Linked DNA regions of Homo sapiens. The protein of the gene in region 2 interacts with the protein of the main gene of each other region in a biochemical or structural test. Each region holds a gene or a part of one and is shown on either strand. Other genes may lie near its edges.

What was found. The genes of interacting proteins can lie anywhere in the genome.
Region 1: the proteins of EPS15 (region 2) and SNAP91 form a complex in vitro, tested with the Homo sapiens proteins (one study listed by BioGRID).

What each region holds. Positions count from the first base shown.
Region 1 is NC_000006.12:83,707,299-83,711,043, forward strand, and holds the start of SNAP91 (clathrin coat assembly protein AP180), read right to left. Parts: upstream 1,804-3,745; 5' UTR 1,547-1,803; exon of another isoform or gene 942-1,546; intron 660-941; 5' UTR 630-659; coding exon 500-629; intron 1-499. UniProt on the Homo sapiens protein: Adaptins are components of the adapter complexes which link clathrin to receptors in coated vesicles. Clathrin-associated protein complexes are believed to interact with the cytoplasmic tails of membrane proteins, leading to their selection and concentration.
Region 2 is NC_000001.11:51,358,548-51,362,292, reverse strand, and holds part of EPS15 (epidermal growth factor receptor substrate 15), read left to right. Parts: intron 1-937; coding exon 938-1,122; intron 1,123-3,745. UniProt on the Homo sapiens protein: Involved in cell growth regulation. May be involved in the regulation of mitogenic signals and control of cell proliferation. Involved in the internalization of ligand-inducible receptors of the receptor tyrosine kinase (RTK) type, in particular EGFR.

The sequences.
Region 1 (3,745 bases), on a different chromosome or scaffold from region 2:
CCTCAGGAGCAACACTTAAAAAGATTATACTACCTTAGAACTATCTGAAATGTATTTAGGAAAGAACTAGGGTGACAAGTTTGACCTTCCATAAATTCATCTTTTTTTTTTTTGACTGTGCAACCTCTAATTTCCTCTAATTTGGAGAAGGGAGGGTGGGTGGAGAAAGAAAAAAAGGTGAAAAACATCTAATTCAGTGTGTACAATCTCTCTCTTGTGTGTGTGTATATACATATGCGTGTGTGTGTGTGTGTGTGTGTGTATTTTTCCCCCTCCACCAAGACCTTGGAGGTCAATAAGAGGAAAAAATGGCTCACAAGACAAGGTTTCATGGCTAACCCAAGGGAACACCTTCACAGCTGAAGAATTTCAGCTCAGGGGCAACCTGGCTGGGAGTATCAGAGGCCACAGCATTATGGACCAAGAGCGCAGGCCGCACCACCAGCATCCCAGGCGCCTCTGCCGTGCGCATGTCCCTCTTATATAAAGAGATGCTTACAGTCCAGGTGCTTTTTCTTGGGGCCCATTACTTCATGAGTAGTGGCTTTGCAGACCGCTCTTGCTACAGCAGAGCCTGTAACGCTGTACTGAGCGGCGGCGATCCGATCCGTGAGCGTTTGGCCCGACATCTTCTGTGGTCGCGTCTACCGCCTCCTCTTCTGCAGGAAACAAGGGGAGACGGTCCGGCTTTAATCCGCAGACCCTACCCTCCAAGCACCCAGGCCTTGCCTCCTCCAGCCGCGCGGCGGCTCTCTCCTCCTCCATCCCCACCCTGGCACCACCTCTCGGAGCCAGCAACGCGCCAAGCCCCGCTCCTGCGATGCGGTCCAGGGAGTCTTGGCCGTGAGTAGGGCCGTCACGGAACCCCAGCGTGGGCTCCAGTCGCAGCATCGTGACACCGTCCCCATTCTCCCCCGGCCCCCACATAGGGCCAGACTCACCCCCTGGGGACCCCCCTGTCAATCAGCACTTTCCCCGCAACCTGACCCGCGGGTGCTGGACTAGCCACAACGTGCGTTGGGGTTATTCCCTGGGCGCCGCACCCACCGGTGCCCATCTCCCACCTCAGCAGACTTTCCTCCTAGCAGCCCGCAGGCTTCGGGGAATGCATCGGATACCCAAGCCCTGGCTGCCTCCCTCCTCCTCCTCGCGCTGCTGCAGCAAAGGGCTCGTCCTCCCTCAGTCGCGAAGGAGATTATCCTAGCGTTGCGCCATGTTATGCCCTCGCCTCCCCTTCCTTCCTCGCCGCCGGCTCCAAAGCCTCGCCGAGGCCCATCGCCCGGGCCCCTTCCCCCCGGTTCCAAATCCCTGCCGCAGGGGCCGCCCGGGAGCTCTGCGGAGGCGCCGGAGTCTTGGGGCGCCTCACCCTTCCTGGCTTTGGAGAGGAGCCGGGCTGACAGCGAAGCCCAGTCCCCCGCCCGCCCTGGAGCGCTCCGCGGAGCTGTCACTCGGCCGCTGCCCTTCTCCGCACCCTGGGATTATCCTCTGCGGATCCCCGCGAGACCCTGGCGCGGGGAGGGGGCCGAGTACGGCCGCGGGTACTCACCCCGCCCCTGAGCGGCGCCGCCCGCCGCAGGATGAGCGGAGCCCGGGCCGCCGAGGGAAGCCGCGCCGGTGGATGTGTGCGACCGCGCGTAGCCCCGGTGCCCCCGGGCGCAAAGTCTCCAGCCCTGGCCGGGCCCCGCTCCTCAGCTCCGCGGTCCCGGCGCCCACCGCCCCTGGCCCCTGGCCCCAGAAGCCAGTACCCGCCCGCCGCCGCCTCTTCTGCCAGCGCCGCCGCGTCTCTCTAGCGCTCCGAGCTGCGTCCCCATCCCCGCCCCCACCTCAGCTGTGGCTCCTCCGACGAGTCAGGTGACGGCGGCGGACAAACCCGGACGAGCCCTCGGCGGAGCGCCTCGCGGCCCCCTCCCAGCTACTCACACACACCGCCCCCCGGGGCCGGGAGCTTAAAGGCGAGGGGGCGCCTCGCGCAAGCATCCCCGGCAAGCCGGCGGGGAGAAGAAGGAGGCGGGGAGGCCGACACCCACCCAGCCAGCGGCTCTCCGCTGGGCGCCGGGCCGCCCCTCCGCTGCTGGCGCCGCACCCGGCACGCACTGGGCTCGCGCACCACGCACACCTGCCCGCCGACTGCGGGGGGAGCCCTGGGCGTTGGGGGCGTTGGCCAAGACGGGCGAGTGGGCTTCTCGGGTTCTACTCTGTGAAGGCCAAGGCAAGGGCGTCGTCGCGCGCTGCCTGGCGGAGCCCAGCCCCTTCCCCACACTGTCGCTGACACGCCCGCCTGTCAAAGGCTCCGAGGCCCAGATGAGCAGGGCGATTTTAAATGTCAGATCCTGCCGGCCATCCGCGACCGTCACCTGTGCGTCTTCAGCTCCTCAGGCTCCTCCGCTTGTCTCAGTTACAACTGGGAGCCCGGGTGGGCAGGTAATTCTAGCCACTTTAGTCTTAAACGGATACTGAGGTCTGCTGAAGGGAGAATAATTAACACAGCCGTTAATCGAGTCCCAGATTACCTTCGACAGTAATCATTTGCGTGCATAAAGAAAACCCTTTGTACCCTTAAGAAGTAATTTCTGCCAATTAAATATAGTGTTGGAACGTCCGTCAATTGTATGTCAAGTGTATATTCGAATAGTAAGCAGGAATTTCTAAACAGGGATGTGGAGTTGGTTAATAGCTTCACGTGTTGACATTTTCAAAGGTTGTTATTTATGTTCACCTTTTTTTTTAATTCTCACAGTAGCATGAAGATCAAAACTATATTTGTGAGCTTTCCTGGCATTTTTTCTCCTTGCTTCGGGTGGCTTCTGCTCGGCCTTGAAGCCATATATCGATACCTATCGATCTCAACGTTTTGTTATATATTCCTCTCTTTCACCTGGTACAGTGTTCAGTATGCAGTCATGATTTCCTAACTACTGAGACTGATTCTAGGACTAATTGGAAGCTTAATGACTAAAGAGAGACAGCTTAAGAGCACTATTGTCTCAAGTACTAGTCTTACCATATTTACAAGGGAAATAAAAACGCAATTCTATTAAAAAAACTTGTACTCCAGTTTTATAGCAGCTTAATATAATGGCCCCAAACTGGAGGAAAGCCAAATGTTATTCTACTAGTAAATGAATAAACAAAATATGGTATATCCACATAATGGAATACTACTTAGCAATAACAAGAAACAAACTAATACCATTCATGAATCTCAAATTCATTAGACGAAGGGAAAGAAGCTCTATCAAAAATTCTACTTATTATTTTGATTTCATTTATGTAACATTCTGGAAAAGTCAAAACTATAGAAACAGAAAACACATCAGGTGCCGAGTCAGGTGACGGTGGCATTGGGGGAGGGGACTGCAAAGGGGCAGAAGGAAACTTTTTGGAGAGATGGAAATGTTTTATATCGTGACGGTGATGATGATTATACAGCTGCATGTATTTCTCAAAACTCATCAATTTGTACACTTAAAATTGGCGAATTTTGTTGTTTGTTAATTATACCTCAATATAATCTGATAGAGTTGGGAGTGGCAATATTAATATCAAAGTAGGTTTTACAATAAGGAATATTAATAGCAATAAACAGGCACATTTCATAATGAAAAATTCATTAAGAGCATGGAACAATTCTACTTGTTTGTATATCTAAGAACAGAGCTTCAAAGTAGGACGAAGCAAAACCTAATAGCATTAAAAGGAGAAACAGGCAAATCCACAATTATACTTCAGGATTTCAGCACTTTTC
Region 2 (3,745 bases):
ATATATCTGACCCTTGGCTATTAAATGTTGGCAGTAATTCTAATTTTGCCTACTTTCACAGGATTATTGGAAGAATCCATTGAGATATGAGCATCTTTTCTAAGCAGCTACAGTGATGGAATCTGTTGTTATGATTGCTATTACCAGCTTATGCATTTTAGGAAAAAAATATATTTGGAGATATTTTGACCCCTATTTTTATTATCTTTTCTTCAAGAAGTACTAAGTTTAAGTAAGACTTAGAGAACTTGTTTGAAAATGGTAATGAATTAGTGAGTGACTAATAGGACAGAATACTATTGTTTGGTCAGAGATTATTTGATCAGCAACCGCAAAGATTTAGGCCCTGGGCTTCAAAACATTTTTTCTTCATTTTGAAATACAGTAAATAACAAAAAATTGGCAGCATTTTACTACGGTAATTTAAAAATTTTATGCTCTTAGGTATTGTATGTAGAACTAGAGAAAAATCAGAAGAATTTTCCCAGTTTTCAGAGGTCATTTGCTCTTACTGCCACTAGTGGATAACTGTTATCAGGCTGAGGGCTGTAACAGCAGAGGCAGGCCATTTCTGTCTTTATTCTTTATTATTCTCCTTCTGTTTAATCCATTCGTCTCTCCTTTTGGGAACATGCTGCTTGGGTGTGGCTAGGGGATGGTGGGATTCAGTCTTTGGACAAAAATATGATTCCTGGCCCATCCTTACTTTGCTATTTGTTTCATTAGCTGCACATAGCTGGAATCTATTTGAGAGATCATGTGTGAAGAATTTGAGGACAAATTGTTGGTGTAGCTATTTAAGACAATATTCAGAATGTGTTTTAGGTACTCAATCATCCTCTACCCACAGTACTTTAATGCTATCTGTGTACATGTTCTTGTGTGCTTGTATTTGCTGTATTTACTGGTTGAATTAATTGTAATGATTTTGATCCAGGGAAAAGATCCATCAACAAATTGGATTCTCCTGATCCCTTTAAACTGAATGATCCATTTCAGCCTTTCCCAGGCAACGATAGCCCCAAAGAAAAAGATCCTGAAATATTTTGTGATCCATTCACTTCTGCTACTACCACTACCAATAAAGAGGCTGATCCAAGCAATTTTGCCAACTTCAGTGCTGTAAGTACTGTGAATGAGCTGTTTGGGGGAGAAATCTTTAAAGAGTTTTCAGAGATTATTTTGGAGTCTGCCAAGTTTGCATCATTTTAACTAAATTTACCAAGATACTAAAAATGATCTTTCATTCTTCCCCCAAGCAAAACCTCTGTTTGATCCTGTTTTGACAGTTCTACGGTTGTTCCATCGCACAGATGATTTTAGTAGTCCCAGTTCTTGTCATATACACAAGTTGTTTTGTAAATCTTTCTCTTAGTCTTGGTAATGTAAGTAAAATCCTAACAGTTATTATTTTGTGGATGGTTATGGGTGATGGTGATTTAATGAACAATTACAGAGTCATTGCTCTCTGCCCACTAGATGAATAATGCCAGTAATAAGTTTGTGTATTTGCAGCTGTGTATGTGTGTTTGTGTATAAAGTTTTAATGATTTCTGGAGACCAGTCAGCAAATATTATATGAGAGGATAGAGCCAGAGATTCTTTGAATAGAAAGTAAAACTATTAAACTTACACAGTAGCTTTTTAAAAATGTAAATGCCAGTTTTATGAAATAAATAAATAAATGGTTGTCAGGATTTAAACAATCTTTATTTGGAGGGCCCTAATTCACTAACTTCTCATGTTTACTCTGCGTTCTTTCAGAGATGTCTAAAATAGGAAGATCGTTAGAAACAGTGGAAGGGTGCCATGATAACAGCATAAGCAGGGCCTATAAAATCACAGAAATGGGGCAACCAACCATGGAGGTATCAGTCTAGAGAGACATAAAGCAATGTCATATATTCCATCATTATTCAGTAAAAAAAGTTATTTTTTAATAAAATTCTTAGACCGGGTAACAAATTTTCAGTTTCACAGTTTTTTCAGGCAAAATAACCTTCGTTATCATTGCCTGTTCTATAAAACAGAGATTTTCTTCTATTTATCACCTTATGCCCTTGAGATGATTTTGGAAATAGATCTAGTGGCCAGGTAACTCTGCCTAATATTTCCCTCCTCAGTGTAGCATTGGGCCATTCAACCAATTGCTTTATTCCTGCAGCTGTTTCTAGTTAGAAGGGAGGTAGTCAAGAATCTGCATGCAGGCCGGGCGTGGTGGCTCACGCCTGTAATCTCAGCATTTTAAGAGGCCAAAGTGCTTTAAGCACCTGTAGTCCCAGCTACTTGGGGGGCTGAGGTGGTGGAGGTTGCAGTGAGCTGTGATCATGCCACTGTACTTCAGCCTGGGTGACAGAGCCAGACCCTGTCTCCAAAAAAAAAAAGAATCTGCATGCAACTAAGACGACTGAGCTCCCAGCTTTTGAATCTGTACTCTAAGTTCTGGTGGCTTCTCTTGACTATGAAGGAGCAAAATAGGAATCAATATTTTGAATATTGTAAAAATGGAGTGCCAGAATTATACTGATTTTTTTTTTTTTTTGAGATGAGTTTTGCTCTTATTGCCCAGGCTGGAGGCGCGATCTTGGCTCACCACAACCTTCACCTCCCAGGTTCAAGCAATTCTCCTGCCTCAGCCTCCCGAGTAGCTGGGATTGCAGGCATACCCACCACACCTGGCTAATTTTGTATTTTTAGTAGAGACGGGGTTTCTCCATGTTGGTCAGGCTGGTCTTGTACTCCTGATCTCAGGCGATCCACCGGCCTCAGCCTCTCAAAGTGTTGGGATTACAGGTGTGAGCCATCGCGCCCAGCCTTACTTAACTTTCCTTTTTTTTTTTTTTTTTTTTAAAGACAGAGTCTTGCTCTGTCGCCAGGCTGGAGTGCAGTGGCGTAATCTCAGCTCACTGCAACCTCCACCTCCCAGGTTCAAGCAATTCTCCTGCCTCAGCCTCCCAAGTAGCTGGGACTACAGGCACGCACCACCACACCTAGCCAATTTTTGTGTTTTTAGTAGAGACGGGGTTTCACCATGTTGGCCGGGATGGTCTCGATCCCTTGATCTTGCAATGTGCATGCCTTGGCCTCCCAAAGTGATGGGATTACAGGGGTGAGCCACCGCATCCAGCCCGACTTAACTTTCATTAGATGGAATTTGATTTGTTTCAAGCAGAGAATCAAAAATTGGCCTTTTTAGAAGGTTATAATTCTCTTAGTGTAAAATAACCCTCTGGTAGTTTGTGGCATTTAATATCTTAAGTATGGTTTTAGCAAGTCAAACTCTTGTTGGGGCCAGACGGGGTGGCTCACACCTGTAATCCCAGCACTTTGGAAGGCCGAAGCGGGCGGATCACTTGAGGTCAGGAGTGTGAGACCAGCCTGGCCAACATGGTGAAACCCCGTCTCTACTAAAAATACAAAAATTAGCCAGGCATGGTGGCGCATGCCTGTAATCCCAGCTAGGGAGGCTGAGGTGGGAGGATCACTTAAGCCCCAGAGGCAGAGGTTGCGGGAGCTGATATAGTGCCACTGTCCTCAAGCTGAGTTACAGAGCGAGACTCCGCCTCAAAAAAAAAAAAAAAAACAAAAAAAAACAAATCTGGTTGGAAGGAGTCTTGAACAACAGCTGAGGCATTTTGCTCCAAAATCTCAATATAGTATAATAAAAAACAGCTTATAATAAGAACATCTTCTTTTTTCATTGTGAAAGATGTGGTTAAGCATTACACGTTTCAAAGTTTTGCTT